Regions from separate parts of the Homo sapiens genome. Here regions 1, 3 and 4 are each reported to be linked to region 2. The links are microRNA targets in miRTarBase. Many come from high-throughput screens and were not tested one by one. Region 2 holds a microRNA gene; each other region holds the end of a gene's coding sequence.

Evidence for each region. Region 2 holds the annotated microRNA hsa-miR-10b-3p (ACAGAUUCGAUUCUAGGGGAAU, at 1,455-1,476, opposite strand). A microRNA usually pairs through its seed, bases 2 to 8, with sites in the 3' UTR of a target mRNA and lowers its output. Matches are read on the target gene's strand: a 7mer-m8 pairs with bases 2 to 8, a 7mer-A1 pairs with bases 2 to 7 and ends in A, and an 8mer does both.
Region 1: miRTarBase lists PCSK1 as a target of hsa-miR-10b-3p. Seed matches in the 3' UTR shown: 7mer-A1 at 5,143-5,149.
Region 3: the mRNA of TRAPPC6A is a reported target of hsa-miR-10b-3p. The part of its 3' UTR that is shown has no 7-base or 8-base seed match.
Region 4: the mRNA of ZBTB49 is a reported target of hsa-miR-10b-3p. Seed matches in the 3' UTR shown: 7mer-A1 at 2,688-2,694.

What each region holds. Positions count from the first base shown.
Region 1 is chr5:96,387,252-96,395,241 of GRCh38, forward strand. PCSK1 (proprotein convertase subtilisin/kexin type 1) reads right to left here. Exons shown (of 14, transcript NM_000439.5): 13 at 7,613-7,774; 14 at 3,082-6,127. The coding sequence ends at 5,750. All of the region lies in intron 4 of LOC101929710 (a long non-coding RNA gene), which reads left to right. It also overlaps a transcript of CAST not described here. Among named protein-coding and RNA genes, the nearest start is that of PCSK1, 42 kb to the right of the region's middle.
Region 2 is chr2:176,144,492-176,151,843 of GRCh38, reverse strand. It overlaps MIR10B (microRNA 10b), which reads right to left and starts at 1,541; the gene lies at 1,432-1,541. It overlaps HOXD4 (homeobox D4), which reads right to left and starts at 294. Exons shown (of 2, transcript NM_014621.3): 1 at 1-294. The coding sequence starts at 210. RefSeq lists enhancers at 1-575, 3,104-3,647.
Region 3 is chr19:45,157,823-45,165,812 of GRCh38, reverse strand. TRAPPC6A (trafficking protein particle complex subunit 6A) reads left to right here. Exons shown (of 6, transcript NM_001270891.2): 2 at 619-686; 3 at 843-960; 4 at 1,566-1,649; 5 at 1,804-1,897; 6 at 2,590-2,880. The coding sequence ends at 2,621. NKPD1 (NTPase KAP family P-loop domain containing 1) reads left to right here and starts at 4,831. Exons shown (of 5, transcript NM_198478.4): 1 at 4,831-4,888; 2 at 5,592-5,753; 3 at 6,713-7,150. The coding sequence starts at 5,663. RefSeq lists enhancers at 1,714-1,893, 4,549-5,181.
Region 4 is chr4:4,318,770-4,326,759 of GRCh38, forward strand. It overlaps ZBTB49 (zinc finger and BTB domain containing 49), which reads left to right. Exons shown (of 8, transcript NM_145291.4): 8 at 1,871-3,014. The coding sequence ends at 2,547. Among named protein-coding and RNA genes, the nearest start is that of ZBTB49, 33 kb to the left of the region's middle.

The DNA.
Region 1 (7,990 bases), not on the chromosome of region 2:
TCATTTACAGCAACTGATTGAGAAAAGCTAAGGCTTGTGGCTTTTTGGTTTCTGTAAGTAAAAATAACAACAGCAGGTTCACGGCCATTCATTCATGTCCCAAAAGCTTATTAAGTGCTAGTAAAGAATGACCAGAGCCAAGGGCCTAGATGCTCAGATAAACAAGATGGGTTTGATCCACCTCTGAGACACCTGATGGGATGGATAGGACCTCATAAGTGGGCTTTCTTCCTTCTAATTCTCTCTGGCAAGAGAATTTGAAACAGCCCATAAATTTCTTTATTATTACAAATCTCTCTTAACATTTTGGGCTCAAAATTTATACTATTCAGTAAGCATTTTCTTATCCAAAACAGACTGGCATTAGGCACCCTACCATGGAACACTCAAATGATACTCTTTTCTATGAATGTGACTATGAACTGGAAATTATGCATGATATGTGGGGAGCACTGGACCCTCCCCAAGAATGAGTTTTGAGCTGAGCCCTGGTGGTGCCTGGAATAGGAGAAGTGATGATGCAAGAAGTGTTGTAAAATATGTAAGACAGAACTAAGGCCAAAGGGTACTCTCCTCTCACTGAGACATCATCGAGGTTTATAAATCACCTGTCACTGGGGCCACTAGGGACAGGGATACAGGAAATGAAGGGATCAATCATGACAACCCTGCAGGAAGAAATTCGAGGATGTTTTCCTCTATCCTCTTCTAAGAACAAGAATTCCTTTCAAGATTGGGGGTCCCTGTTCAGATACATATTTAATGAAGATACTCTCAATATGGGGGTGTATAGAGATGGGGTGCATATGGATGTGGAGGAGAGAGAAAGTGCTTTATGGCATTCCAGCCAAATTGACTGAAAGTGGCACACATGGTAGAGAGAACCGGTATAGAAACCAGGAAAGTGGTCTCTGCCTCCCTGGCACATGCCATGAGAATGATGGGCGCATAATGACTTCAGTCACCTCCTTTTACTGGTACATTAATGATAGAGTAATGCTTATAAAATATGTACATATAGCAACAACATACAGGCTTAGTTAGACTGTTCTCTCTCAGGATGGCTCTGCTTCGTGCTATGAGTTGGCTGGGCTTGGTTCCAGAATGTGGTTTTGATTTACATCTGGTTCATATACATCTGTTCTGGAAACCAGGCTTAAGGGGCAGTAGCTCCTGGGGCACACTCTCCTCACAGCGCTGGGTCACTGAAAAGCAAGGGCCAAGCCAAACTGTGCAAGCACATTTGAGGCCTCTGCTTGCATCACATTCATTAATATTCCATTGGCCAAAGTAGATTGCATGGTCAACATCAGTGGTCCAAGAAAGTATACTCTGTCCACAGGGGCAGAGGGAACAGAGTGGATAATTCAAACAATCATTTATATGAATGTTATAGCTTTGCAAATTACAAGGCAGTTGGAAGGCATTTCTCTTCCTCCTCATGAGTTTAAACTTGTATTTAAGAATTAATCTGTATCCTTTGTACACGTGCATGTATTTGTGTTTGTACTCACAGCATGTACATGGTTAATCCAATAGTTACCAGATGGACATTCAAAAGAAAGTAGAGACCATCTATGGAAATTGTTTTATGTACAACACAAACACACACAAACTATTTCTGTATATATATATACATATATATACACACACACATATGAAATTCAGCCTTTAAAAGGAGCTCTTGCCACTTGCAATAAATGAATGAACCTAGAGTATATTATGCTAAGAGAAATAAGCCAGACACAGAAAGAAAAATGCTGCATAATGTCACTTATATGTGGAATTTTTAAAAAGTCAAATAGATGGAAATGTAGAGTAGAATGGTTTTTGCAGTGGGGTGGGAGAGGTGGGGGGAAATGGGGAGATATAGGTCAAATAGTATAATGTTGTAGTTATGTAGGATAAAAGTCTAGAGATGTGATGTACAGCATGAGGACTATAGTTAATAAAAATGTATTACATACTGGAAATTTGCTTAAAGAGTTTTCTTAGCATTTAGGTGCTTTTACCACAAAAGAAAAAAGGTAACTGAGAGAATGGATATGTTAATTTGCTTGACTGTAATCATCTTTTCACTATGTATTTATATATCACAATATCACATTGTACACCTTAAATATGTACAATCAATCAATTAATCGATTAATCAATGAAATGAAAATAGAGATATATCTTCAACTAATCCTGATGGAAAGAAGTCCTTCTGGAATTTCTGAAAGATCATTCTAGTTTTACTGAATGATTATGACTTAGGAGAAATGAATGGATTCTGGGGAAAAACCAGTTCCCAAGGGGAGAAAGGTCAGATTCTGAGATGGTGGGTCGAAATTCCAGGAATGGAAGTTTGAAGCAAGAGAGAGAAGTGGGCCTGAAGTTCAGAAATCAAAGTTGGGAATTGGGGCCTGGCACAGTAGCTGATGCCTGTAATCCCAGCACTTTGGGAGGCTGGGGCAGGTGGATCACCTGAGCCCAAAAGTTTGAGACCAGCCTGGGCAACATGACGAAACCTGTCCCTACAAAAAACACAAAAATTAGCTGGGTGTGGCGGTGCACACCTGTAGTCCCAGCTACAAGGGAGGCTGAGGTGGGAAGATCGTTTGAGCCTGGGATGTGGAGGCTGCAGTGAGCCATGATCATGCCATTGCACTGTAGTCCGGGCAAAAGAGTGAGACTCTAGCAAAAGAAAAAAAAAAAGTTGGAACTTTGAGGGTTCTAATGAGAGAACCTCTGGGAAGGATTTCACACTTAGCTGCTTTACTCTAGCCTGTAAACTAAGTCCTATTTGGTGAAATGTTGGGAATCATTTCTCTTACATGTAGTAAGTCTGTTTAGTTTAGTTTAGATAGTTTGTTCATTTCTCAACATTTCAGTTAAGGCTCAGTCATACAGCTTTGCATGTTGTCAAGAAAGTGAAGGATGGGCTAGAGAGGAAAATAAAACATACCTTGTTCAGGTAGATTCTTAAATTGACTCCAAGAAAGCCCAATTTCCTAAAAAGGAATTAACTCCTTAATGTAAACTGTCAGCTTTTCTTTTGTATAGTCCATTTGGGAAACACAATAAAAGAGGGAGATCTTGTTTGTGGTGGAAACATGAGCTTTTTTTCTTTTGACTTAGTGAGAAACAATTTATTTTTCTGATTTATAAGCATATTTTACATATTCTGGTCAATACATCAAATGTATAATGTGGAAGTTCCCTTAAGAATACCAAGACCACACATGTTAAACTCAGCTACATGTTGTATTAGGCTATTAGACAAATGTCACTTTTAATATCACAACACATACATGTACTTTTTTTCATTGACAGAGGAACATGCCTTTCAAAAATATTTTATTGGGTGAAACTTTCTTATTCTCAGGAAAACTTTTGGTTCTTTAATATAATTTATTATGCTCTTTAAAATTCTGTTTGATAAAAGCATTGGTATATTATAAATACCTGTAAAGAAAATATAGTTTAAAATTTCAAGGGAAATAGTATATAAGTTTTCTCTTTGACATTTTCACAAAAATCCACACAGGCACTAAGAAAGACTGACAAAACTGTTTTATATCTGAATATTATACTCCAGGTTGGAAACATTCAATATGATTTTATTTAAATATTAAAGCTTCTTGAGAGTGAACCTTTGGCTACAACCCAATGAGTTGGCTGGGGTTTTAACCCAGAAAATATTTTGTTAGGAAGAATCAAAAGAAAGATTTATACATCTAGCACTAGATTGGGAATGGAAAAGTAATGAGTTTTCATTCTAACTCTTTATTGGCCTTTCCGGGCCAATCTAAGAATTCTCTGGTCCTTTTTAGTTTTAATACTTTTTGATATGCTCCAATATTGGAAATTCTATCTAACACTTCATATCAAACAATATATGAAACTTCCAAGGACAGAGTGATTCCGCAAGTCTTTTAGGAGAACATTCTCTAAGCATTACGGGCATTGCTCTGCAAACACCCTCTACACAAATTCAAATGGTAGAAGAGCAGGTGAAAATTTGTGTTACCAACCATACTTCAAGCCAAAGCAAATGACAGACTCTAGTGTTCTTTTCATGAACCAGTTCAATGCCATGAATTACCTTATGAAGTTCAAACTTCATGGAAAAATTGCAAACAGCAAACTCAGTGGGAGAAAGCCAGCATTGTAGGTGACTGGAGACTTTGTAAGCATATTGAGAGAAGGAAGCCAGAAGGTTAGTAATAAATGAATTAGTATTAGTGATCATCCAGGTGAGGTGAGATTACATAAGCAAACTCATAATTATTATTGTACAGATCCTGCCTAACAGAAGATGCGGGTAGTTTGTTTTTCCTAATGCATTTACACTTTGTACACATTCGCTTAGTGTAGGAGTGGGCAAAATCAAATGCCTATTGGATACTGCCCAGCAAGGAATCAAGTGCCTGCTCTAGGTAACATGGAGCAGGGTGCCATGGGGACTGAGAGTCATCTAATCAGGCAGCTGCTACTCAGCTCCAGCTAACTGTTGCCATGAGCAAAGATGGGTCCGAGAATGAGGTTTTATGTGAAACATCATATTTTCAATAACCACTCATATTTTAAAAACATTCTGCATACCAAACAAAATCTACCTGAGGGACAATTAAGGTCCATGGCCTGCCAGTTTCTGCTTCTGATTTGAAGCTTAGGAGCAATTTGGTGAGAATTTGGACACTATCAGTGATAGGATTGGAGAAGAACTTTTAGTATCAAGGAATAAACATTCAGTTTCAAATACTTAGAACACGCTGTTCTAATGAACACAGTTGGAAAAAAACAAAAACAAAACTTCTCTTGGTTTCTCCCTATTATGAGTATTTTTCTATTATTACATTAGGTCTCCATGTGATAAGTGGTTTCCTGTTACTGCTGAAAAAAATTGTGACTAGGAATTTGCCAAGTCCCAAGTGTAAGTTTTTTTTTTTCTGGGAAAGTGGTATATATCATTTCTCCCAACATTTATTTTGTGGCTGAGAAAGGAGACAGGTATAGAAAACTTTCAGAAGGAGAAACAGAGGAAAGACCAGGCATGCAGCACGAGTCATAACCACCTCTGGATCCACGGACGCCTCTGGCACCACAGACACAGTGCACCAGGCAAAGAATGTTCGAAAATTGCTCAAACCAGAGCATTCAGATTTCAAGATCTGTTTCTAGATCTAAATAATCCAGCTTTTGACCAACATGACCAGATTTTGACTACAGGAATGAGTGGCACTTTGGAATAGAAAGATCTAGGGAATGAGTCTTACAGTGAACTCCTTCATTAGGCCTACCAAATACTTTCTTGGCATCAAAATTTGAAGAACCACATGGACAAGACAGGGAACAAGCTACAGAAACAGTTTCTGACTCCTTCTCATTCTTTGCAGATTATGTTTTCAAATTAATTGATATCCCAGGTTTTGCCTTTTCTTTTGAGAATTGAAATGGGCTCTAATGCAGTGTTCTAATGTAGTGTAAGAGCTTTTTGTCAACTGTGACTCCAGAAAGAACAAAACACTTCACTTGTGCAGACAGGAAAGATGTGTTTTGAAATACCTATGATCAATTCTGGAAGTTGAACTTCCTGCTTGAGCTCATCCCCTTCACATGTACAGTTTAGGGAGAAAAAGAAAAGGTGCCACAAAGGATATTATAAGCATAAGAATTCATGACAAAACAACCACTTCAGACACAGGCAAAATCGCAGGGTAAGGAAGAAGCATGAATATTTCCAACTTGGGACCACACACTTATTTTAATTTTCCTCATTCAGAATGTCCACCAGAGCTTGAAGCAGCCGGTCGTCTCTGTGCTTGTAAGGTTTAGTGTTATAAAAAACATCAACATAGTCATTATACAGACTGTCTTCAGAGTCTTTAAGCTGGGAAGGTTTGTTCAGCTTTTCCAGGGCTTCGTAGAAGTTTTCATAAGGGATGTTGAGCTTTGCACTTGGGGACTTCTTTGGTGATTGCTTTGGCGGTGAGTTTTTACTGAAAGCACTTTGCAGGAGTCGCAGCATGGCCTGGGAAGGGGCTCCCTCCTCCAACTCATCCCTCCGGCCCCCTACGCTGCTGCTGCTGGGGCTTTTGGACACCAGGGTGTTCTCCTTAGGGTTCTCTTGTGTGGGCTGCTCCTAAAACATAGAATGCCATCCACAAAGGGAAGAAGGTTCATTATTTATGGCCAGGCAAGCTAGTTGCAACCCTACCACAGGAACGCTGCCTGCCGCTTGAGAGGCAATGAGGGGAGGGGAGAGAGTTCAAGACTGGGAGCCACATGGACTTGGGCTTCAACCCTCATTTGCCTACCCTCTGGGGTACCTTTAACAACCTTTTTAATCTCCCTCAACTTCACCTGTCAGGTGGAATAAGAGTACCTCCATTTGTGGTGGTTTTGAAGACTAGATGAGACTGTATAGGTAAGTACTCAGTACATGGTGGTTTTCTTTACTTGTCAGCCTGCTGTCATGGAATCCATTTTGGGAAGCAGAGGATATCAAAATATCTAACAAGTCATATAGAAGGCACCCACTGGTTGCGGTAGCATGGGTGTGCCTTCCTGGAGGCACTGGCTTTCAGAACTACCCTTTTAGCCACTGAGCTGTAAGAAGTGGTCAGGGGAGAGACTGAGGTGCTAGGCTGGGGAGGAGGGAGCTGGAGAGCTCAGAGAAGCCAACCTTGGCCAACTGCTGTGGAAGTGTTTCAATATTCCAACACTGACAAGGTTAACCTGCTTCCCAGACTGTGAAGAAAAGTACTCAGGACTCAGGTCCTGGAGGGAAGCTGCTTTGAAGAATATAAATGGAACTAGAATTCAAGCTGAGGCCTTCACAGTTCATGTGTAAGTTTCTTGAATATGTACTTTGCCTCTGTATCTTCCAAAACACCCAGCTCAGAGCTGGACCTATTCAGAGCAGGGCGTTCTGAAAATTCTGAAAACCTACCTATTACACCTGAGGCACTGTGCTAGATGCTGGGATACAGAGATAAAGAAAATGTGGGCTTTTCTCACCATCTGATAGAAGGAAGCCAGGAGCCATAGCAGGCTGAAACCCAGGAATGTGAACGACTTATTTTAGCTATCCTCTGAAATTTTTTGAGAAAAAGTGTGATCTATCGCTCCCCTTGGTGTTGCCAAGAAGTGTCAGTTAATGAATTAATAAAAAGAAGCCTACATGATTTGGCCATTTGAGCCTTGTTTTTCTTTCTGCAAAATGGATACACGAATGTCTATCCTTCCTAGGTTATAGGGATTATAGGTTAATGAGACAATGTGGAAAATGCTTAAAAACAAAGTACAGTACAAATGTTAGATATATGTGATTGGGCATAAAGATAACTTTTTTTTCCATTTGTTATCTGTCATAAGTGGAGAAAATTCATGTTAGGAAATTTAATACTTTTGAATTCATTAATTGTGATTTCTAAGTTCTGGATAAAATATTGAATGAAAAAAATACAGTTTTATCCTATGGAAAAGAATAGTTTACCACTATCACTTCTTATCCTCCCCATCCATGTTTGACTTATTTCCTGCTTGGAAGTTGGGTACAGCTTCACTGACTACATTGTCTACCCCAGTTCAAAAGAGAGCATGCCAAGAACAGAGCCACACAGACCTCCCCTGGATCCACCATCTTCTCCACCCCTCTTCTGTCATTCTGAACAGTGTTGTAGGACGTGTACACACGAGGCTGCTTCATATGCTCTGGCTGAGAAGAGGTCCCGTGCAAAATCAGCTTCCAGTTCACAATTCTTCCTTCATTTTGAATTCTTCCAGACTAACAAATAAGCATACCTACATTTAGTATGTGTTTTAGATAATATAAAACAAACTCATTCAAAATAGCTAAAAAGGATTTCATTGTTAAAATCTCATTTTAAGATTCTGTGCATTTCATGTGAAAGAAACCATTGGATCCACTCTTGCTATAAAAATTGACAATTTGTAGGTTCAACAGTTTAGAAACTGATTGCTTCATAATCAAACATTTAAT
Region 2 (7,352 bases):
GCCAGGCCCGGGGCCGCTGCCTCCGAAAGGCTGCTCACCGAAGTCGGGCCGTGGGTAGAGCCCCGGGGGCTGGAAGTCTGCGCCCTGCGCGCCGCCGCCGTAGTAGTCGGCGCCCTGCTCGCCTAGGTAGCCGCCCTGCAAATACTCCTCGCACGGAGGGAACTTGGGGTCCACATACTTGGAGTTCACCATATACGAACTCATGACCATTAATTTCAGAAGGTAGAAAATACTAATTTTTCTCGTGTTGTCTTTTTTTCTCCTTCCATAGGGCCCTCCTACTTGCTGTCAACTGAATAAAGTTGGGCAGCCATGTGACCAGGCCAGCCAATGGCGAGGGAGCAAGTTTATCACCGGGTTGGTGAGCATCTCATAATTTTCACAAATTTAACTAAATAACATACGTGTAATCAAGTAGCTTGCTATGGCACATTTGAGAGCCCCTGCCAGATATTAATGTAGTTCCAGTCCCCAGCACCCCATTCCCCTCAGGTAATCCCAGCTTTTGTCTGCCACTGATTTTGCCAACCTTCCGTGGCCCTTCCACTCACCCCCAGCTGAATGCAACCCCCGCCCCCCGACACCAAGTAGGCACAGCTCAAGGGAGAATGAATCCTCCTATTGGGGTACAGAGCAATGAAAGGTGGGTGGGTGAACTCGCCTCTGAGTTGGGCAGAGTGCCCCAGGCGAGGAGGGTTCCTGCCTGCCCGCCCTGCCTGCAGCCGGCGGGAGCAGGGATTCTGCCATACAAAGGCCGCCGTCCTGGCTTTGTCTTCATCAGGGTCACCCAAAAGTTACCAGAATCTGGCCAGCTTGAATCAAATTAGGCAATGAGTAACCGCCATGCTTTCTACCAGTGCCCAGGCCCGGGGGTTCCCAGCCAAAGCTGGGCCCTGCCAAAATAGCAGGGGGCCCTCGCTGCCCTTGCCCATGTAGCTGGGGGTGGGCTGGGATGGTGGCAAGGGCACCTCCACCTTGTCAAAATGCACCCTAGAGCTCCCCACTGGGCTTCTTTGAAGCTTGCTTTCTTCCCACAGGCCCCAAATACAAGCAAGCCCCCATTTGGGTACCTTTGCACCTCATGTTCCTGGAGGGCAGAGCTGGGACTGGGCAAGCTGGCCTTGTACCTCACTCCCTAGTACCCCAAAACCTAGCCCTTTGGCCCTGCATCCATGCAACCAATTAGGCTTGCATTCTCTCTTTCTCTCTCTCTCTCTCTTTCTCTCTTTCTGTCTTTCTTTCTTTTCAGCACCCAGAGGATACTCTGTTTAAAGGTGAGGAGCTTCTGGAGAGGAAAAGCTGCTCTATGTCACCAGGCGCAGCTGATCCTCCTGGAGTCCAAGGTAATAAAACAGAACGAGGCGGCTGACCAGCGCCGGCTGCTTCTAGTCTCCATGTCGCACTTTGGTCTCTGGCTATTCCGAAGAAACGTGAAGTTTTTGCATCGACCATATATTCCCCTAGAATCGAATCTGTGACTATACGGATACCACACAAATTCGGTTCTACAGGGTATATATAGACAACGTTACAACCTCTGGGTCCCACCCAGAGTGAGGTACCTAGGTCGCTGCCGGCCCCAATCTCTTCCTCTGAGCCACCACCGTTCGACGCAGCCACCCGCACTTTCTGAGACAGTTCAGGTAGCCTAATGGGCTTGGCGACAATTTGAAGCAATGAGTTCCCTCATTCTTCTGCCAGGGTCAGGGTTACCAAGCAGGCGAACAACCAGAATATTCTTCTTAAGAAAGAAAAAAAGAAAGAAAGAAAGAAAAATAATCCATCCCAAGGATGGCGGCTTTATTAACCACCCTCCCCCACCAGGATCCAAATAACCCTCCTCCTTACCAAGTGGTATTTTCCAGAAAGGAACAAATGCCCTCAGCGGCAGAAGAAAAAGAAGCGAGAGGGGAATATCCTGTGTCTACTCCTTTTCCTACTGCCCGACCAAGCCAGGTTGTCTGCCAAAGCTACTTCTCCAAGAAGTCGCGCATTTACCTTCATGGGCCCTGATCCGGGCTGGCCTCTCCGTTCCGCTGCTGCTGCAGACCCCGAGGCAGGCGCTGCTCACAGGCACCGAGCCGCCTTGGGCTGAGGCCGGCGCGCTAATGGTGAAGGGCAGGGCGAGGGGTCATTCGAAATCATTTACAAACATATCACAAACTTTCATTATTTTTGCTTTGCCGACAGCAGCACACAAGAGTACAAAAGTTCACAAATTTCACCCGCCCCAGCGCCTCGGCACTGTGCAGTGCTTGTCCCTCAGTTCAGGGCATGGAGAGCGCAGACTCACTCAGAGCCTCGATGGATTTCAGGGGCACAGGGATGCCCTGGCTCGAGTGGGGCTTTTGGGTGCCTAACTGTAGGCTGAAGGTGTTAGATTTTTTTTTAACTGTCTTGATTGCCCTTCCTACCTCCCACATAATTCAAAATTTAGTTTCAAGCCTGGGCCTGGGCCTGGTGGGGTGGGGCAGGGATACTCCCCCTCCAAGCCTGGCACTTTGCTCATCCCCCCATCCTTTGCTTCCACCACTTTACCTGTTTCGTAGGGATTTTGGGGGCGCCAGTTCTAACAAGGGCTATGAGGCTGCAGAATCTGTTTATCCCAGGAGAGTCCCCCCAATTTCCCTGAATGCCAAAGACTCCCAAGTATCCACCTTCCTGGGACACTGGGCCTAGGCTCTATCCAGACAAATTGGGGGAGCCTGCTGAGCCGGCTGGAGACCGGGGTGAATATACACATTTTCATATTTGTTAGACGCTGTGACCTGCATTTCACCTTATTGCTCGACTTGTTCAGACAGGTCAAAGCCAACGAGTTATTGATGAACAAAAGCGTTAAATATTCACCTCCCGCTCAACTGCCCATACTAATGCTTTTGATCTCTAGGGCTTTTTGTGCTGTGTTCAGCTACAGGGCGCTGAATGTGGGTTTGCTAGCGAGAAGCTTCTGCAGAGATAAGCACCCAGAGCCAGTGCAGGGGAGGAGAGAAGCAAGACCAGAGGTCCCCAGGACACCAGATTTTCCAGACTGGAGCCCAGAGCCCCTTTCACTTGAGCCAGCCTGGTGTATAGGGGTAGTTGCTCTTCTAGGGGTGTGCACAGTCTACAAAGGGTCGACTAGACTGCCCAGCCCAGCGGGGCCAAAAAACCTGTCTCTGAGGCCAGCCCCAGCTTTTCCAACCAAGAAGGAGGGAGACTGGTTCCTGCAGCCCTCACATATTCCAACTCCCATTAAAATAAAATCACTTCCGTTTTGCAGTGAGGGAGGGGCCACAGTTCTTTCTGTGACTCTCCCTCCAATACCATCGTCTTAATGAGATGGTCCTCCAGGAGGCTTCACAGGCCTAATCAGAAATGTACCTGTCTTTCGCGGCACAGGCAACTCAGAAAGATCCAAACATCCAAGCCAAGGATCCCACGAGTCTCTGGCCCCACCCCACCGCATCCACCCCACTCCACCCTCCTATGCCTCCTTGCAGCACCAGCGCCTCTGGGGCGGAAATTCTCCAACTGCAGTTACAGAGAAGCAGAGGTGAAAAGAAGGTCCGTATCCCTCCTCGCTCAGCCAGTGTCCCAAGCCCAGGGCCCACACCGCTGCAAACAGATCGGGGGAGGGGCGGGGAAGGAATGTCCACATAAAGCTCAGAAGCGGGCAACTCAACACACCCACGGCCACAGAGGATTGAGTTTTTGTTTTCAGTGAATTTTTTTAAAAACAGAAGGTTGGCCAGGCTAGACCAGGTTAAGAAGGGTTGGGCTGCGGAGGGGACCGCATTGCCTTGGTGTTTACTGCGTTGGTTTGAAGCCGCTAATAAGACAGGCTGCTAATTAGCAAGCTCTTAACAGAAGTGAGCGCCTTGGCGGAGCTGCACCTGTGCAGAGCAGGGAAGGGCCGCGAAGGTCTAGGGAGGCCCAAGGAGACAAGGGCGAGACCCCGCGGACCGTTCTCTCAGGCAGGTGTCTGTGAACCAGGCCCCAGAAAAGCTTTCCGGGACCTCGATTTAGCGCCTCCACCTCCCGAAGCGGGCTAACCTCGCAGAGCGAGGCCGGGGGTGGAGGGTGGGGGTGGGGTGGGGGAGGCAGGGCCTTTCTTCTATCCGCCCACTCCGCTGGCTTGGCCCCTTAGCCCACCACTTCCCCGCGATCAGTACCGTCTCTTCGCGATTCGGAAGAAGCGGGAAGGTACTTACAGCGGCGCTCTCTCATGGTCCTGAACCTGTTGCAATGAAAACGGGGATCACTTAAATTCCACAGGATAATAAAGCAGACACATATAACACACAGAAAAATGACAAGGCCCAGATACCCCACCAATACCCAGACCTCCCTGCTTCAGGTGCCCGCCCCCGGGAACTGCGCAAAGTTCTCCGCAGAGCCGGAGACCGCAGTCCCTCAAGAGCAGAGCCACGGATTATGACAGATTTCGATCTCCATCGCCTCCCCCACTCCACGCACCCTTGGGCAAAACCTCACTAGTTACTGGGCCCGAGTCAGGTCGCCTGTAACAGGGTTTTCCCAGTGGGAAAACGAGAAGCGAGGAGAAAATGGGCCTTTGTGTGTTTCCTTCTGCGCAATCGGGCCGGGTGGGTGCAGGTCCACTGGGGAGGGGGTAGCCGCTCCATCTGCCCCTCACCCCTGCTTCCTATCTCTCCCACCCTGGGAGCAATTCAGCCTCCCTTTCCAGCTTCAGCTTGGTTTCAAATTCCTCAGCCCCAACCAGTGCCCCCAAAACCTGTCTTCTCCTCTTCAAAGAAGAATCAGGCATGGCTGGGACTTGCCACTTCTACTCCAATTCAAAACAAAGAGCAATTTCCAGGGGGAAATGAGGACCCAAATGATAACCAAGGAGGAGGAAAATCAATGGGTTTAAAGGTGAATGGCAATGCTTTAGATTGTTATCCAGCTCTATGGGTATGACATCAATTTTTCAGGATTGCTGCTGGAGAGCCCAGAAGACAATCTTACTAAGCAGTGGTCCTCCCAGAGGCTGGTGTCCAGTTTTAAGTTTTCAGTCTTTCCTGATATTATTATAGGAAAGCAGTATCAGAAATCTCAGGGACAAAGCAGCTTCACCCTCATCCTCTCTTTCTTTCCCCACCCAGAATACCACTGTTTTATTCCACTTCTGAAGGAGATGCTCTTAAGGGGGAGGAGAGGGGCAGTAAGTCCCTCTTGTGAGGTGAGAGCCCTCAATTCCTAACTGTCCCTATCAGGAAGGGAGGGCATGGGAGATCGAGATGCTCATTCTATTTGTTAATTTAGGTTTAGGCTAAAATTAGAATTAACTTCGATGAGACTTATCCCCATCCTAGGCAGAAAAGTCAGGAACAGAGAAATCTCCCACCTCTGAAGTTGTTGTGGAAAAAGTAATAAGTGACTTACTGTTTTTCTTTCCTAGTGGGCAGGGGAGCTGGGAGTAGAACCGTCTCCTTCTTAGCCTGGAGCTGGCTGGAGCCTCTCACGTTCCTATTGCTGCTCCAGGAACCCAGCATCTGCACTTGTATGCTCTTAACCTAATTTATGGTGGGAATTATATTTTGGCTTGTCAACTCTCAAGCCATAAAACAAAGTTTATTGGAATCACGTGCTCGTAAATAGCCACTCAGGTCCCATCTCTGCAGAACCATAAATAACCTTTGGCTTTAAACTTTTATTCACTAAATAAAGGTTCGCTGCAACGGTTACCTCAGATTTAAATAGTTCCAAATATCCAGGATGCAAGGGAGGTCATATTCATATCAATACCCCAGGCTTTTCAAATAGCATCTTTTCGGAGAAGCTGTTTAAGTTGGGAGATAGTGCTATTTGGAAAAGGCTAGTTGGTGGGCATGTCTTATGATTCTTTGGCGGCATTCACTGTGAGTACCATCAACCCCTTTATTTCAATAATTTTCTAGCTCTAGATGTGATAAAGAGGAAGGTCAAAAGCCACTTCTTATTTGCTTATGACAGAAGTTGGAAGTTATTTGAGATTTTTTTCAAGTTTCAATGGAGAAAGGGTGGTTAGGGAGAGGCTGGGTGGGTTTGGGGGTGGGAGTAGCAGTTGGAATTAACACTTGGCTCCCTCCATATTGTTGTGCATGGGCTTGGACAAAGTTGAAGGTAGCCACATGCCTAGAGGTTTCTGTAATTCGCTTAGATCTGAAAGGAAAGCCTTTGCAAGTGACCAAACTGCTTAACACAGCAAGACTTGGGGTTTGGTAAAGTGAGAAAGTGGAGAATAGCCTCATTAGAATCTTTGGCAACTAAAGCTCCAAAGAAGGTTATAAAACAATAAAACAGCCCTGGTGTGAAGGCGACAGGGTGTGAGGAAGCAAATGAGACTCTCAAGGAATCCAAGCCTAGGAAGTCAGATGTCCCCACTCCCATGGTGTCTCCAAGCACAGTGATTAAGGCTCAGGAACTTTGGGGGCTCAAAACTGGGTGGGAGTTTTAGGAGCACTACCCCCACACCCACACTGCTGCCCCCACCAGGGAGAGAGCCTAAGAGAGGAAGAGAGAGTAGTACACTGCCGCTGTCCTGCTGAGAAAGCCAAGGAAAGAGCTTGGGCCTGAAGCTGCTCTCTAGGAAAATGTGGCATTCTCTGCTTGGGGGAGGCTGGGGTGGGGGTAAGAGAGAGGGAAAGATGCCCTCAGCTCCCACCAAGGAGCATAAATAAAAAGAGAATTGACCCCCCAGCACCCTTCAATAGCCCACCAGAGTTGCCACCAAACAGTGTAAAAACGTGTGGTTTTGACTATTCTGATGAAAATAATGGATGTTCTGTGGAGATTTGTAGAGCACACACACATATGATTTCTAAATCAAATTCAGTTGCAACTGTTCCCATCAGAAAGACCCATCAAGCCCATAAAAGAGATCCCTTCATACAAAGATCTCTTTGCATCCCAATTTCCACCCATTCTACATGCATTTTCAAACCCATTTCCTGATTTCACTGTCATTAGCTAGAAAGCAGGGGGCTATTAGCCTGGATTGTAAGGCATCCATTTCTCCTTTTTTTGTTTCATTAGCCATGTAGGAAGATATTTTTCTTTTATGGTTGATGGCATCTGTTTTTAAAAATGGATAAACTCTTCAAAACATGTTTCTGATTCTGGTTAGCACTAGATGAGCAGCTGTAAAATAATAATAATAGTTTGAGGGGTTGAGAAGAGCTTTCTTTATTTTCCTGTAACCCCGGCACTTTGGGAGGCCAAGACAGGCAGATCACAAGGTCAGGAGTTTGAGACCAGCCTGACCAACATGGTGAAACCCCATCTCTACTAAAAATACAAAAATTAGCCGGGTGTGGTGGCGGGTGCCTGTAATCCCAGCTACTCAGGAGGCTGAGGCAGGAGAATCGCTT
Region 3 (7,990 bases), not on the chromosome of region 2:
ACAGTCCCCTCCTGTATGGACCCTGGCCTACCCTCCAGACACTACATGGCAGCCACTGTCCTTTTCGAGCACCCAAACGAAGATCTGCCTGTCCCGAGCTTCCACGTGTTCCCCAGGGATCTTGGCCAATATTATAAGGCATGATGATCATGGTTGACTTCCACAGCCCCCTTTCCTGTGGCCCAGCCTCCAGCCCTTGGGCAGGTCACCTGGAGCATCTTGGTGGAGTCGCAGCGCCCACTTCCCAGGGCATTGTGAGGGTTCGCGCTGAAAGCACGTGCAGCCTGTCATGGGGGTTATCAGGAAAAGTCATGGAGGAGGAAGGGAGCCTGGGGAAGACCCCCATTGTTCCTGAGGGAAGGGGGAGCTGGTTCTTGGGGGCTGATGATCTGGGGATCCAGAGAGCCTGCAAGGTCTGCAGAGGTGGGTGAGGGAGCCCCAGCACCCTAGAGGCCTGCCCCTGCCCTGGCCGGGCTGTGCCAGAGCCCCTCCCTGCTCACCCCTGAACTGACGAGCACCAGCAAGTTGGTCTTTGGGTCCCCTGGCAGGTCCCCCCCTGGGTGGCCCCGGGTTCGTGGTGGCTAAGGGCCCCTGAGCATCTCTCCCCTGGCCTTCTAGGGACAGAAGATGAGCCTGTCGGTCCTGGAGGGTATGGGGTTCCGTGTGGGCCAGGCTCTAGGCGAGAGGTGAGCGCGGCCCCTCCTGCTCTCCCCCAGCCTGGCTGGCAGGGCTGGGCAGGCCCCGGGCGGGGAGGGTTGCATTGCTCCATGCAGGAGTCGGGCCTGTCTTCCTCCCTCTTCCTGGCCTGGCCCCACGGCCTCAGCTTGGTACTGCCCCACCAGGCTGCCCCGGGAGACGCTGGCCTTCAGGGAGGAGCTGGATGTCCTCAAGTTCTTGTGCAAAGACCTGTGGGTGGCGGTGTTCCAGAAGCAGATGGACAGCCTGCGCACCAATCACCAGGTGGGAGCACCCCGGCCTGCCCGTCCAGCTTCCTCCTGAGGGCAAGACCAAGAGAGTGGGAGGGGAATCCCCCGGCGCCAGAGCAGCGGCTGCCGGGACCCGCCCAGAGCTTTCCCACAGGCGGCCGCAGCTCTTGCTCTGTCTGATCCTCTAAGGGAAGCCAGGAGGCTGCGCTGGGGCATAGGGGGTGTTTCCGGAACTTCTCCAGCCTACCAGGAGTGAGCCATGCATGGGCAGAAAGCCCCTGGTGGCTGCCTGCCCTACCCCCAGTGTGATGCTGCTTGTCCCAAGCTGGTCTAGTCCCCCAGTGACACCCAGGCTGTACCTGCCCTTCTGCATCTTCCTGGGCCGGGTCCCCAGCTTTTCTGCACAACCCTGGGAGGCGAGGGCAGGACCCACACTCCCCAGGGCACAGGCACCCACTCCAAGTTTGGAAGCCCTGGGCCCTACCAGAGCACTGGAGGCCAAGGCTGTGACTCCAGTGGTTCTCAGGAAGGGGGCCTTCCCAACCTCAGCCCAATCTAAGACCTGGGTTCCTGCTTACCCTCCCTGCGCTTCAAATGTACAGGCCCCGACCCCACCCACCAGCCTCTCCTCTCCCCCAGGGGACCTACGTCCTGCAAGACAACAGCTTCCCCCTCCTCCTCCCGATGGCCTCTGGCCTGCAGTATCTGGAGGAAGCACCCAAGGTATGGGGGGAGCTGGGGCCTTGTCCACACCTCCCTTCCTCCTGTTTACCCAGCCCCATCCCACATCAGGCCTTTCCCCAGGCCTAAGGGGTGCCCCAGACCTCGGGTGCTGGCCTCCCCTCTCTTCCCATGCTGGTCTGTGTTCCCTCCTCAGTTCCTGGCCTTCACCTGCGGCCTCCTGCGCGGCGCCCTCTATACCCTGGGCATTGAGAGCGTGGTCACCGCCTCCGTGGCAGCCCTGCCCGTCTGTGAGTCATGGGGGGTGGGGGGATTCTTCTCATCCCTTGAGTTGCTGGGGGCTTCAGAGTTCCAGCCCCACTCCTGTGTGTGTGCCTGGGAGGCAGGCCCAGTTTTAAGTCACCTGCTCAGCCACACGGCTGGTGCAGGCCCATCTGTGCCCCTGGCTCCGTGACGTCGCCAGCCCTGCAGAGAGAACTGTCTGGCGGTTTTGAACATCGTTTCCCAGCATGGGAGCCGAGGTGGACGCAATAGAAGTTATCCTCACTGATCCTTCGATGGGGGCGACGGCAGGCTCCAGGGAACTTGCAGCCTGCCTGACTGGGTGTCCTCTGTCAGACAAGCTGGAGCCCCATTCCTGCCTGGGGACAGCCTGCCCCACCACCTCCCCCACCTTCAGTTATTTTGCCTCTGCCGGTTCCCCAGGCCCACTCATGGGGGCCCCCGGGGCCCCCGTGGGGTAGGACCGAGCAATGCATACCACAGAAGCCCGTGCCGGGCGCTTCCCTGGGGCCACATCCGTGGCCCTCATGCTCCTGGTTACTCACACAGCTCAGGGATGCGGCCCCGTGGGCGGGAGGAAACAGCCCAACCTAGCCACTGGGGTGTCAGTGCAGGACGGGGGTGAGCGCCTAAGAGCCGTCCAGGTGCCCTCTGCCTCCCCCATCCCATCCTCAAGCCTAAGCCAGGCCTTCTCTTCCAGGTAAGTTCCAGGTGGTGATTCCGAAATCCTAAGCCTGCCTCGCACCTGCTGAGCCGCACTGCTGCCCCTGGCCTCACCGGCCTCAGGAGACGGTGGGGCCGCTGCATTTCGGGGTGGTCTTGGGAATCCCAGGCCCTAGGGGTCACATTTGCTCAGGAAGTGGGTATCAAATTGAGGTGGGGGTGTCAGAGGAGGCAAAGGGGTCCCAGCTGCGGTCAGGACTGTGGTGGGATTCCCGCCTCGGCAGCGTCACTGCCCAGTAGCTGCTCAATAAAGGCTGTGTGTGTGGAATCTGACTCAGAGCAGTGGGGGAGGATCTGTGGACCGACTGTCACAGGTCCTGCAGGGGAGTGGGTACCCTCTCTGGCTCCCATGCCCCTCAGACCTTCCCTCCCCTGCCACGTCCCCCTCCACTCCCTCCCTCCCCGTGCTCCTGGCAGAGGGATGCTGGCCTCCGGCATGGGCGGCCTTACTGGCACCTCTGCCAAGTCAACAAGTCTGGGGCTGCCCTCTGCCCGGCGATGTGCACAGAACGGAGCGTCTTCCTGGGGAGCAGGGCTGGGAGTGCCCGGAGTGTAGGCCAGGTCGGGCTGGGGCTGCCAGGGCTGGGGATGCATGGGGTAGGGGGAGGCCAGACACCCCCATGGACACACGCGGCCCCTACGCACTCCTGCTGCCCGTCCCTGGGCAGAGTGGCCCTTATGCTGCCCCCTCCCACCCCGCTCGCATCTGTAGCATCTGGGGACTCCTGGGCTTCGCCGCCCGCTGCCTGACATGGGTAAGTGCCCCAGGCTCAGAGCTGCCCACCAAGGCTGGGGGTGAACCCCAAATGGGATGAGAAAGGGGCCCCTTGCTAAAGAACCTCCCCTGTAGAGTGGGGTCCAGTCACCCCGTCAGGCCCTGCCTGGGTCACCCCTTCCTATTCCACCTGGCTGAGTGTAGCTGTGTCCTGTGTCTGCCTCTGCAGTGCTGCCCGCCTGGCCCACTCCCCAAACGCCTGCTCCCCCTAGTGTCCAGCAGCCTCCTGGCCACTGTGCTCCCAGCCCGGGGCAATCTCGTCCTGCGGAGACGGCTCATTTACATTGGGCCACGCTTCATGATCGGGCCGGGGGTGTGGGGGGTTGGCACGGAGGCCCACTGCAGATGCCCACGCTCAGATGCCAGCCCCGCCTCCCTGGTGGGCCAGGGAGGAACCTTCCCAGAGCAACCGGCTTGAAGGGTGGGGGAGGAGACGGGGTCCCAGGTCGCAGGAAGGGCCCTGGCTCTGGCCGTAGGGAGCAGTGTTTGGTCACCTGGGCAGAACTCAGGGCTGGGTGGGTTCCCTTTATCTTGTCCTGGGCACTGTTCTGGGGCTGCCTCCCCCATCCCCATCGGAGCACCCCGTCTGTCAGGGAAGCAACTGTTGACCCCGTTACGCCAGCAGCCACAGGGAGCCGGGGCCCCAGAGAGCCGAGGGGCCTTCAGGGCATCTCCTGCCCAGCCTTACCCCGGCCCTCACCCCTCAGAGGGCATCTGTGGGGAGGCAGTCACTGAGTGCTGGCCCCGAGGGCAGGAGACAGAGCCTTGGCGAGCCTGGGAGTAGCAACCACTGACTGCTTCCAAATCCCCGCCCTGCCTCTGTGTGCCCTGGGGCCGAGGACTTCACTTCTCTGGGCCTCAGTGTCCTCATCTGTGAAGCGGGCATCACACCTGGCCCCCTGGGTGGTGGAGAGGAAGACGGGGCTATGGTGTAGCAAGCCTTGATGTGTGTGCTGTTGCCCTTGTCCTATGGACATCCATTTAGAACAGCGCCAGGTAAATGGGTCAGCACAGCCCCGGGTCAGGTGCGCCAGGCCCTGAGCTGAGGGGACTCCCACCCAGTGCCTCCCTCGCGACAGCCACGAGAGGCAGGTGCCCACTCAGCAATGAGGAAGCCATGGCTCGGAGAGTGAAGTCACCTGCCCAAGGTCACATACCTGGGCCACGGAGGAGCTGGCATCCCAGCTCCCTGTCCCCCCCACACCAGCAGAAGTGCCTGGGCCTGTGGCTGCCTTAAGGAGATTGAGGCAGTGCTGCGGGATGCATCTCCGTTCCTTACCAGGGATGGGGACACAAGACTGAGTCCAGTCGGAGTCCCAGTCCTCGAGAGCAGAGAGCACTGGGACAGGCAGGCGCTGGGGAAGGGGCGGGGACAGGCAGGCAAACCGGTCAGGCGGGCACTGGGCTGAGGCCTCCATCTGGATGGGCCTGCGCTGACAGTCCGGGCTGGTGTGGCAGCTGCTCGTGGGGCAGGCAGCTGGGGCCGTGAGGCCACCGTCAGGTACGAGTGGGACTGGGACTGGGGGTGGGGAGTGGTGGGCAGGCTACCAACTCTCAGCACCCCAGTTTCCTCTGCCCCTCAGCCTTTCCCTATCCCTGTCCCCCACACAGCATCCTTCCCTGTCCTGCTTTCGGCTCTTCACATTGGAAACGCGGTACACCCATCTTGCCCGAGTTTGCTGAGCCTCTCCCCAAATTGGACCACCGCGATTTCATTGCTCCCTCACAATTCCCCCTCCACCGTATCATTCAATGCCCACAGGTACCCAGCTCTGATTTTCACTCACCCTGCTTCTCATCTGCTCTCCAGCTCACCTCACTAGCTCCATGTCCTTCCAAAGCGTGCCAGCCTCCCACAGCGCCCACACCTTAATGACCCCTTGGTCACTCAGCCACCACACCGGACCCCCTATTTCCCCAGCCCATGTCTGCTCAGCACTCCCCAGTGTCCTAGCCTCTTGGAAACTCCCAGGAGCTTCCCAACACCCAGCCTCAAATTAACCCCTAGCCAACCCCAGCGGTTCTCCGTTCCCTCCTCTGGCCATCCCTCCTTATCCTGCCCCTCACTGTACCCTGAAGGCCACCTCTACCCCCTTCTCCCAAGTGACCTAGGAACCCAGCATCTGGGACTTGGCCTTTCCCCTGTCCAAGCTGTCGGGCAGGGCAGGGACCCTGACCTCAGCTCTCTGCTGTTCGTGCCCCAGAGGCTACGCCAAGCCTGTGTGCTCCCTCCTGCCTCAGGAGCAGGCCCCCAGCACCCAGCTGCCCGGCTGCCATGCACAAACATTACAAAGTCCACTTCGCCAAGGATGCCCAGAGCCCCAACGGGCACTACTTCTGGGACCCAGAGTTGGGGCACCGAAAAGGTACGGGTTCAGTTTGGGGGCGGGTGATGGCCGACAGAGGCCTGTGAGGAAGCCAGAGTGAATGGAGGAACAGAAGGGGAGCTGTCATCCCCAGGAGAGAAAAGCCACTTGCACTCCACCCAGAGGCATCTGTGTAGCAGCAGGGCCTGGGACCCAGGACCCGGACCACAGGGCCTGCGGGCCCAAAGATAGGAGCCTGGGCTGGAGTTGGAAGCAGGGGCCGCCTGGCCTGCCCTGCCCCGTTTCCAAACCCTGAGGCCTGTGTGGATGGCCTCCAGCCTGGAGGGGAGCAGTGTGCTGGGAGTGAGGGGTAGGAGAGGGAGCCCCCCCACTGAACATGTCTGGATGAGGCTGGGCCCAGTTTCTGGTGGTGACCACAGGTGATCTTGTTCAGGGTGGGGAGGGGGCAGTGCCCTCCCACTGGGGCTGATTCAGCCTCCTCAGGGCTAGGGCGAGGGCTGGAGCTTCCCAGGTCACCACCCTTCCTGCCACCCTGGCCCGAGCTGGGGACAAGGTCCACCCCCCACCCAAATCCCTGGCCTACCCCTCTCCACGCCACCACCCATCACTCCGGCCTCCCTGGGCCAGCCAGGGCCAGCTCCCAATGGATCTTCTCAGTTTCCCTGACCCCTGCACTGGCGGCACCCCCCAGGGATCCAGGAATCTGCTGTGGCAGGCACCAGCCTCCATTGAAGCCCCAACCTCAGGCGTCCTCTCTCTGCCCCCAGCTGAAGTCCAAGCCTGCACCTTCCCTGCTCCCCCGCCATGGGACAGCACAGACCCTGGGTCCCTCCCCTGCCCATACCTCCCCCGCACATAATCTTACTTTTTGAGGGGTTTCTGGGGCTCCCAAGAATACTCTGGCCCCCAGGTTCTACCTGAAGACTTGGTCTGGCTTGTGCCGGTGCCCCCGGGGGTCGGGGACACAGGCCCAGTCACCCCCACTTCCTTCCTTCCAGGATGCTGTCATCAGTGGCGCCAGGACTCAGCGGCCCTCCGAGCCCATGGGCCCTGTCGGCCTTCCCCCCAATCACACTGGCAGCTGGCCTACCACAGCCACCAAGTGGGTGGCAGTGGCTGGCGCCGGGGCCTCCTGCCCTCCGTCCTGCAGCAGCAGCGGCAGCCCCAGTCCCAGCCCTCACCTCCCAGCCCCCTGCGGCAGCGGCTCTGCCCCATTCACGAAGCCCAGAAGGGGCTGCCTGCAACCTCCACTGTCCCCAAGGAACCTGCCAGCGCCCCTCAGGCGCCCACCTTACCCACCACGGCACCAGCCATGGCCAGGAGTGGCCCAGCTCTACCCTCCGCGGCTGGCGTCCTCCTGAAGCCCAGCGAGCCCACTGATGCCCGGCCCCTGCCCGCCCCAGCGGCCTGTGGCTCCTTCACTGCCTACAGCTCCGGTGCTCACCCTGGCCTTCTTGGGGGCCCTGTCCCCACTCCTGCCGCCTCACTTCCCACCTGCTCTCCTTGCTCCCTGCCTAGCATCTTGCACCTGCCCTCTTCATCCACACCCTGTTCCCTATCTAGGAGGGGTGCGTCCCTGGCCATGGGGCTCAGGCTGGCTGCCTCAGCTTTGCCTGTTGGGGTCCAAGGCTTCCAGGCCAGGCCTGCCCCGTGCCTCCATCCTGCGCCAGGCAGTGAAGGCCTCCCTCTCCTTCCCCCTTTCCCTCTGCCGACACCCTGGCTCTGCTCTGGTCTCTTCTCAGCTCCCTCCTCTGGCTCAGCAGGGTACAGGGTACATGGGGCAGGGATGGTGAGCCCTGGGTTGTTGGCTGGCTCTGGCGTTGGGGAAGACAGAGCTAGGGAGTAGCCTGGGGAACGGAGAGCAAAGGTCAGCAATGGGAAGACCCACTTGCTTGCTCTCTCCCTCCCTCATTCACTCCATGACTAGGTATCCAGCACCCTGAGCGTGCCAGACCCTGTTCTAGGGGCACAGTGGGGAGTGGGATCAACAGACATCTCTTGTCTTCATGGGGCTCACATTGCATTGCAGCCGGGGGCAGGTACAGGAAACATGGAAATTTAAAAGTGGCTGGGAGGCCAGGTGCAGTGGCTCATGCCTGTAATCCCAGCACTTTGGGAGGCTGAAGCTGGTGGATCACCTGAGGTCAGGGGTTTGAGACCAGCCTGGCCAACATGGTACAACCCTATCTCTACTAAAAGTACAAACATTAGCCAGGTGTGGTGGCTGGCGCGTGTAATCCCAGTTACTCAGGAGGCTGAGGCACGAGAATCACTTG
Region 4 (7,990 bases), not on the chromosome of region 2:
TCACTCTAGTGTTCTGTGAAGGAGCCTGAGCCTTACATTGTGGACAAAACACAGACATGAAAGCACAAAGGCAAAGGTCACTGTGATGTGTTGTTGCAGTGTTTTGGTTTTTGTTTTTTTTAATCTTTTTTTTTTTTTTTTTTGAGATGGGTTCTTTGTTGCTCATGCTGCAGTGCAGTGGTGCGATCACAGCTCACTGCAGCCTCGACCTCCTGGACACAGGCAGTCCTCTCGCCTCAGTCTTCCAAATACTGGGACCACAGGCATGCACCACCACACCCAGCTAATTTTTATTTTATTTTTTGTAGAGACAGGGTCTCACTATGTTGCCTAGGCTGGTCTTGAACTCCTGAGCTCAAGCAATCCTCCCTCCTTAGACTCCCAAAGTGCTGGAACTACAGGTGTGAGCCACCTCACCTGGCCTACAGTATTTTTTATGTGGAAAATGTGCCCAAAGTTTAGGCATGTAAGCTCACATCCAGTTTGATTATTCAAAGGCTTTAAAAAAAAAATAGCCTAGCCATTGCTTGACTGGAGCTAGATAGCTGAGAATTCAGATGTAAAGTGAAAAGTTCTAAATATTTGTCCATGTGAGTTGTGCAGCTCATTCTTGGCTAGTCTGTGGCCTTTGTAAGGTTATGTGCTGAGTTCCTTCTCATCTTACCTATTCCAGTGGTGGAGCTAGATCCCTTACCTTTACCATATTCACAGAGAAAGAAAATAGAACCTGGACAGGAATGCATAACATTTTGTTAAAAGCTGAATACAGGGCCAGGCGCCATGGCTCATGCCTGTAACCCCAGCACTTTGGGAGGCTGAGATGAGCTGATCACTTAAGGCCAGGAGTTCAAGACTAGCTAGGCCAACATGGCAAAACCCCATCTCTACAAAAAATATAAAAATTAGCCTGGTGTGTTGGCACACCTTGTAAATCCCAGCTACTCGGGAGGCTGTGACATGAGAATCGCTTGAACCCAGGAGGTGGAGGTTGCTGTGATCCGAGATTGCACCTCACTCCAGCCTGGGCGCCTCACTCCCAGCACTTTGGGAGGCTGAGGTGGGCAGATCACTTGAGGTCAGGAGTTCAAGACCAGCCTGGCCAACATGGTGAAATGCCATTTCTACTAAAAATATTAATACAAAAATTAGCCTGGCGTGGTGTCAGGCATCTGTAATCCCAGCCACTCAGGAGGCTGAGGCAGGAGAACCACCTGAACCTCGGAGGCAGAGGTTGCACTGAGCCGAGACAATGCCACTTCACTCCAGCCTGGGCGATTTTTTTCTTTTTTTCGAGACAAACACCCGAATACACAAACACCTTTAGAAAAGATGTTTCTAAATTATAGATTGGCTGTGTTAGATTTATGAACATGTAGTGAAACTGATGAGGAGAGCTGTGGTTTCTCAGCATGGGCTTGGCAGGTGCCTACGGCACCCATGTGCAGGGAGACTCAGTGAGAATCGAAGGACTGACACTGAGATACTCAAAACCCAAAGGCTGTCTGCTGGAGGGGTCCGCAGCTGGAGAAGCACCTCCCACAGGAATGGAAAGCCTTCCAGAGTGAGCAGAAGCTGTGAGGTGACCCCCTCTCCTCAGATCAGGGTTGTTCAGTGTCTTGGGAGGGGAGGGGAGAATCCTTCCAGAATGGCCACTGTAAAAGCATCTTTTTCCAGCCTGGGCATCATAGCAAGACCCTGTCTCTACAAAATGTATATGTATATTAGCCAGGCGTGGTGTCATGCGCCTGTCGTCCCAGCTACTTGAGAGGCTGAGGAAGAAGGATTGTTTGAGGCTAGGAGTTCACGACCAGCCTGGGCCACATAGTGAGACCCTGTTTAAGTAAATAAATAACTGTTTTTCTTTTTCCAGGGAAATGTTTTGGGGGATCAGGTGACCTCCGCAGGCATGTCCGCACTCACACTGGGGAGAAGCCGTACACATGTGAGATCTGTAACAAGTGCTTTACCCGCTCTGCGGTGCTCCGGCGGCACAAGAAGATGCACTGCAAAGCTGGTGACGAGAGCCCAGATGTGCTGGAGGAGCTCAGCCAAGCCATCGAGACCTCCGACCTCGAGAAATCTCAGAGCTCAGACTCTTTCTCCCAAGACACGTCTGTGACGCTGATGCCAGTGTCGGTTAAACTCCCTGTCCACCCAGTGGAAAATTCTGTGGCAGAATTTGATAGCCACTCTGGCGGCTCCTATTGTAAGTTACGGTCCATGATCCAACCTCATGGAGTTAGTGACCAGGAGAAGCTGAGTTTGGATCCTGGTAAACTTGCCAAGCCCCAGATGCAGCAGACACAGCCTCAGGCCTATGCTTACTCGGATGTGGACACCCCAGCCGGTGGCGAACCACTGCAGGCCGATGGCATGGCCATGATCCGTTCCTCTCTGGCTGCTTTGGACAACCACGGCGGTGACCCCCTGGGCAGTCGAGCATCTTCCACCACTTATAGGAACTCAGAGGGTCAGTTTTTCTCCAGCATGACTCTCTGGGGGCTAGCGATGAAGACGCTGCAGAATGAAAACGAGTTAGACCAGTGATGTACCGCGCTTCTCCACGGTAGAGGCGTGTTCTCAGTTTAGCAGGCTGGTGTTAAGGCTGTAGGAGGACCCAGTTTCCCCATGACAGTGCCTTCTAACTAGCCAGAGAATAGGTAGCTTCCCTCCTGATGATGGCTCATAATCTGAAGCATCTTGAGCTGGGGGTGTGAGGGGGAGGGCCTGCTGGCTCACCGTGAGGCAGCCGCGGGAGGGAGCGCTGACGTCACAGAAGCGAAGGCTTGATGCTGTCTCAGCAGCCTCAGCTGTGGGGGGGAAGCGCGTGTGCATCGTGTCAACTACTGTACATGTTGGTCATGTGAAAGGAATTATATATGTATAGTATTACAAGTATTTTTGCATTTTTACAAGATTGAAATTTGTAGCATTTTGTATTATTTACACAGAATTTATTTGTATATGAAACTCATACCATAATTTAATTCGAATAAATGAAACTTTTCTATATATTATATGTTTCCTCTAGCATTTTTATTAATCTAAAGACTATAGGGGTATAAAAATAAATAGCAGCGAGGACTCACTCTGCAAGGATAAGAACCTCATTGGTCAGTCTCCCTCCTGGTACAGCGGGTTTCTCAGTGGTCAGAACTGCCTGACTCCTGGCTGCCACTTACTGGCAAGGTCATGGGTGAGCTGTTCACCCTCTCAGGATCTTCTCTGGAGTTTCTTTTTTGCAGTATGAGAGGAACATCTTCCAGTATTTTCACAAGGCTTGTCTGATCTGAGCACTCACTTGAAAATACCTGCCCGGCGCCTGGCCCTTGACAGGGCGTTCTAAATATTTACTTCCCCTTCCCAGCGGGCTTGACAGCCTCTGCAGGAAGGAGATGTGCCCGTGGCTCTGTCGCTGGAATATCAAGGTGAGACTGGGGATGTGGCACGTCACAGGTGATCTGCTTATAGCACTGCCTGCACGGAAGACTGGAGAGCACCCTACACGGAGGACTGTGTGGAGAGCACCCTCGAATACTCGTGAGCAGCTCTAACTCAGAAGTACAAGATACTCAACGAGAGACCAGTGAGGAGGAGAGGATTTTCATAGAAAAACAGCACAGTTGCAGAGTAGGGCATCAGCTCTGAAGTCCATTACAGGTGCATTTCGTGTTTTCCCATCCATCAGCTGCACTACGCTTCTGCCAGGCTGGCTCAGCGAGCATCTGTTGTCCCCATTGCACACATGGAGTGAACTTGGAACACAATGGCCGCACGTGAGTGCAGATCTTCCTCCTTCCTCCCCATGTCCTCTCCTCTCATGGCCTCCTCTGGCTCCTCCCTCATCCCAACTCGTGTAGCTCTTCAGCCTCCCAGCACCTACAGTGCATCCATCCCCTTAGCTGTCCCTGTGGACCCTCCTTGGCCATGGTTCACCCACCAACCCCTTTATCCATTCCACCTGGTGAACCTCCAGCACTACACACAGGGAGCCCAGCCAGGCTGGTGAGAAACAGCCATTCTCTAGTTTCTACAGCTCTCCTGAGCCCCCGCCGTATCCTACAATCCCCTCTCCTTGATCCAGGCGACGTGCTGCCCTAGGCACTTGTGTCACATCTTCTCAGACCTCTGCAGCTCGCCTGTCCTCCTCCTTATGGCCTTGCTTCCTATTTCTCTCAGAACCTAGAAGCAAATAGGGGCCAGGCGTGGTGGCTCACACCTGTAATCTCAACACGTTGGGAGGCTGAGGCAGGTGGGTCACTTGAGGTCAGGAGTTCGAGACCAGCCTGGCCAACATGGTGAAACCTCATCTCTACTAAAAATACAAAAATTAGGTATACTGCCACATGCCTGTAGTCCCAGCTACTCAGGAGGCTGAGGCACGAGAATCGCTTGAACCTGGGAAGCGGAGGTTGCAGTGAGATCGCACCTCTGCACTCCAGCCTGGGCAACCGAGCAAGGCTGTCTCAAAAAAAAAAAAAAAAAAAAAGGAAAAGAAAAAAGAAACAAATAGGAAAGAACATTCCTCAAGCTCCCATAACACCTCCCTACCTCCCCACATCTGTGCCCGTGGACTCTGCACTTTCCCATCTAAAACCAACCTGCCCCCAACCCCTTGATTTCCCACCTCTGCTTTTTCTCACTAAGTCTTATTATCACCATCTGACCTACTATATAATCTTCCCCTATTACGATGTAACCTCTTCTTTTTTTTTTTTTAAATAGATACAGAGTCTCACTATGTTGCCCAGGCTGGTCTCAAACTCCTGAGCTCAAGTAATCCTCCCGCTTAGGCCTCCCAAAGTGCTAGGATTACGGGCATGAGCCACCGAGCCTGGCCAGGATATAAACTCTTTGTGTCTCTTTTGTTCACTGCTTTATCCTCAGTGCCCAGAACAGTGCCTGACCCTAAATGCTCAGTAACAAATAGTCAAATGAATGTCTTTGGAATACTTTTTAGTCAAAATACTGGACCTCCTAGATTGATTGATTTTTTTCTCCTGAACCTTGTTCATCAGACTCCACTGAAATACTTTTTGCCCAGGTGGCCCACGACCTCCCCATTGCTAAACCGAGTGAGAATTCTCAGTCCCCTTCCTAATGACTCTGAGGCAGGATATGACACGTCGGCAGCAAGTGCATTCCTTTTTTCTCCTTGAAACAACAACCAAGAGGACCACTCCTGCTAGGATTCCCCTTCATGCACGGGTGGCTCTGTCTTGGACTCCTTCCCCTACCCCAACACACATCTTAAAGTTGGGGTGCCCCAACTTTAAGAACACAGGCCCTGGACCTCCTCTCCGGCCTTGGCTCTGTCCCTAGGCCATCTCCTCAATGACAGAGCAGGAGCACTGTCATCTTGGACAAACAACTCCAAAAGTTCCAGCTCCCTTTCTAACCTCATGCGTTTCAAGGAAATGCAGCCAGGAAGAGCAGACAATGAAACACAGATAAGACAGCTTGAGCACAGAGGGAGGAGGGAAAGTCTCTTCGTAACCACCAAACTTCACCCTCATACAATGGGCCCCAGTAAAACAGTGGGCCCTAATAAGCACATTTCTTTCCCTTTAGGCATGCTGAGATAGGGAAGCTAAAAGCAAACTCGGGTGGTATGCCTGCAGCTGCAGGAAGATGTGTGGGAACAGATGCAAAAACTCTCCCTCCCAGATAAGCAAGACAAAGAGACACAGAAACATTCCGAGCCTGTGATAAGCTCTCCCACCCTGAACCCTTAAATACTCTTATTTTGTAAGAGAGAGGGCCTCTGACCTAAGTCGGCCAGAAGCCCCTCTCAGGTTTATTTTCCAAAATAACCTATCTTTGACTGTTGAGTGGCTTTTCATGTTTCTTTCCTCTTTATTTAACTCTTACACTCACATCTCATGACCTTAAATACTGTCTGCCCATGACTCCTCCCAAAACTCTGGATTCCTGTCCTGAGCTGCCTACCAGCGTCTTCACAGACACCCCAGACTAAGAGCTTTCAAGACCAAGCTCCTTGTCTTCTCAATTCATGGCCACCTTATTAAATGGCAATCCTGTTCCTCCAGGATTTTACTCAGACTAAAAACCTTAAGAGTTATCTTACTTCATCAGTATAAGTATGGAGGTGCCTCCTGTATGCCAGGTGCTGGATTTGCCAAAGGCTCAGAAAACAAGACCCCTAGGCCAAGTCACATTTTTGAATAAATCTGCTTGATGAGGACAATAATTTGCTCTTGTAGAATAAAACTTTAGGGAATAGCATTAAAACCAAAGCTCTCAGCTGGGCTCAATGGCTCATGCCTGTAATTCCAGCACTTTGGGAGGCTGAGGTGGGTAGATGTCAAGAGTTCAAGACCAGCCTGGCCAACATGGTGAAACCCCATCTCTACTAAAAATACAAAAATCAGCTGGGTGTGGTGGCAGGTGCCTGTGATCCCAGCTACTCAGGAGGCTGAGACAGGAGAATCGCTTGAACCAGGAGGCGGAGGTTGCAGTGAGCTGAGATAGTGCCACTGCGCCCCAGCCTGGGCAACAGAATGAGGCTCTGTCTCCAAAAACAAACAAACCAAAACCCCAAAGCCCTTTTCATTCACATTTCCTGTCTCTTCCTTTTCTGTTCTTGTTACCCTGGCCCCAAAGCCTTATCCTAAAGAAAGAAAATCTCAGAAGAGGTGAAAAGGCTTGCATATGCATGAGTGCAAACTTGGACAGCAAATTATCTGACAGCGGACCAGACCTTGACCTTGTGCTGTAGACACAGCATGGGCCATCCACAGCAAGAATAACAGTGTGTGTGTGCGTGTGTGTTCCCGCATGTGTGCACACACCTTTTATCCCAGTCAGGACACCAGGACTGTGTTCTTGGCTCCATCGCTAGCTGACTGTGCGACAAATGCCCTCTTCTCACTGGTCTTCAGTGTCCTGACATGCAATGGCTACAGAATTTCCATTTTAGAGCTCTATGATTTTCTAAGAATGGCCCATGGCTAGGTTTCTGTAGAACCTTCCAGCGTCAAGACCTGGCTTCCATTACCAAGTTGGAAGCAGAGGCCAAGAGGCTGGGCAGATCATCAGAAAACCCCCAGCATCTCAAAATGTCTGAGTGGAAAGGGACCTTAGCAACTGTACCCTATTCCATGGGCTTCAACCTTTTGTGACTCAGCTGGAAGACTTGTTGACAATGCAGATGTTTGGAAATGATTCTATAGGTTGGGGCAAGGCCTAGGAATCTGCAGTTAACTGGTTTTCTAGATGATTCTGAGGCAGGGAGTGCAAGGACAGTACTTGAAGGCATGCTGATCTAGTGTGAATCCCGCATTGTACAGACACCCTGAAATGTGAAGTGACTTGCTGGATAATAACAGTAGCTAGGACATATTGTGTCTATCATGTGCCAGCACAATGGTAAACGCTCTGCAAGTCAACTCAAGCTTCATAAGAGCCCTGTAAGGTGTATCTCATAATTACCCCACGGACAGTTGGGGAAAGTGACTCCCTGAGAGGTCAAGGAACTTGCCCAATACCACCTAGCCAGGAGAGTTGGGTCCCAAAGTTCCAGGATGACCTGGTGGCAAGCCCCAAGCCAGGATCAGATGCAGCCTGGAATGGAGCGCAGGGTTCACCTGCCGGGTTGTGATGGATCTGGAGAGACACCTACTGCTATTGTATTCATGATACTCATCACCCATCCTGCTCCAGGAGCATCTTGCATTCTTCCCTATTATTTTAACTACTTTTTGAGACAGGGTCTCACTTTGTTGCCCAGGCTGGAGTGCAGTGGTGATCACGGCTCATGGCAACCTCAACCTCCCATGCTCATGTGATCTTCCCACCTCAGCCTCCCAAATAGTCTGGGACCACAGGGAAGTACCACCATGCCTGACTAAATTTTTTTTTTTACTTTTTGTAGAGATGGAGTCTCACTATGTTGCCCAGGCTGGTCTGGAACTCCTGGCCTCAAGTGATCCTCCCACCTCAATTTCCCGAGTATCTGGGACCACAGGCA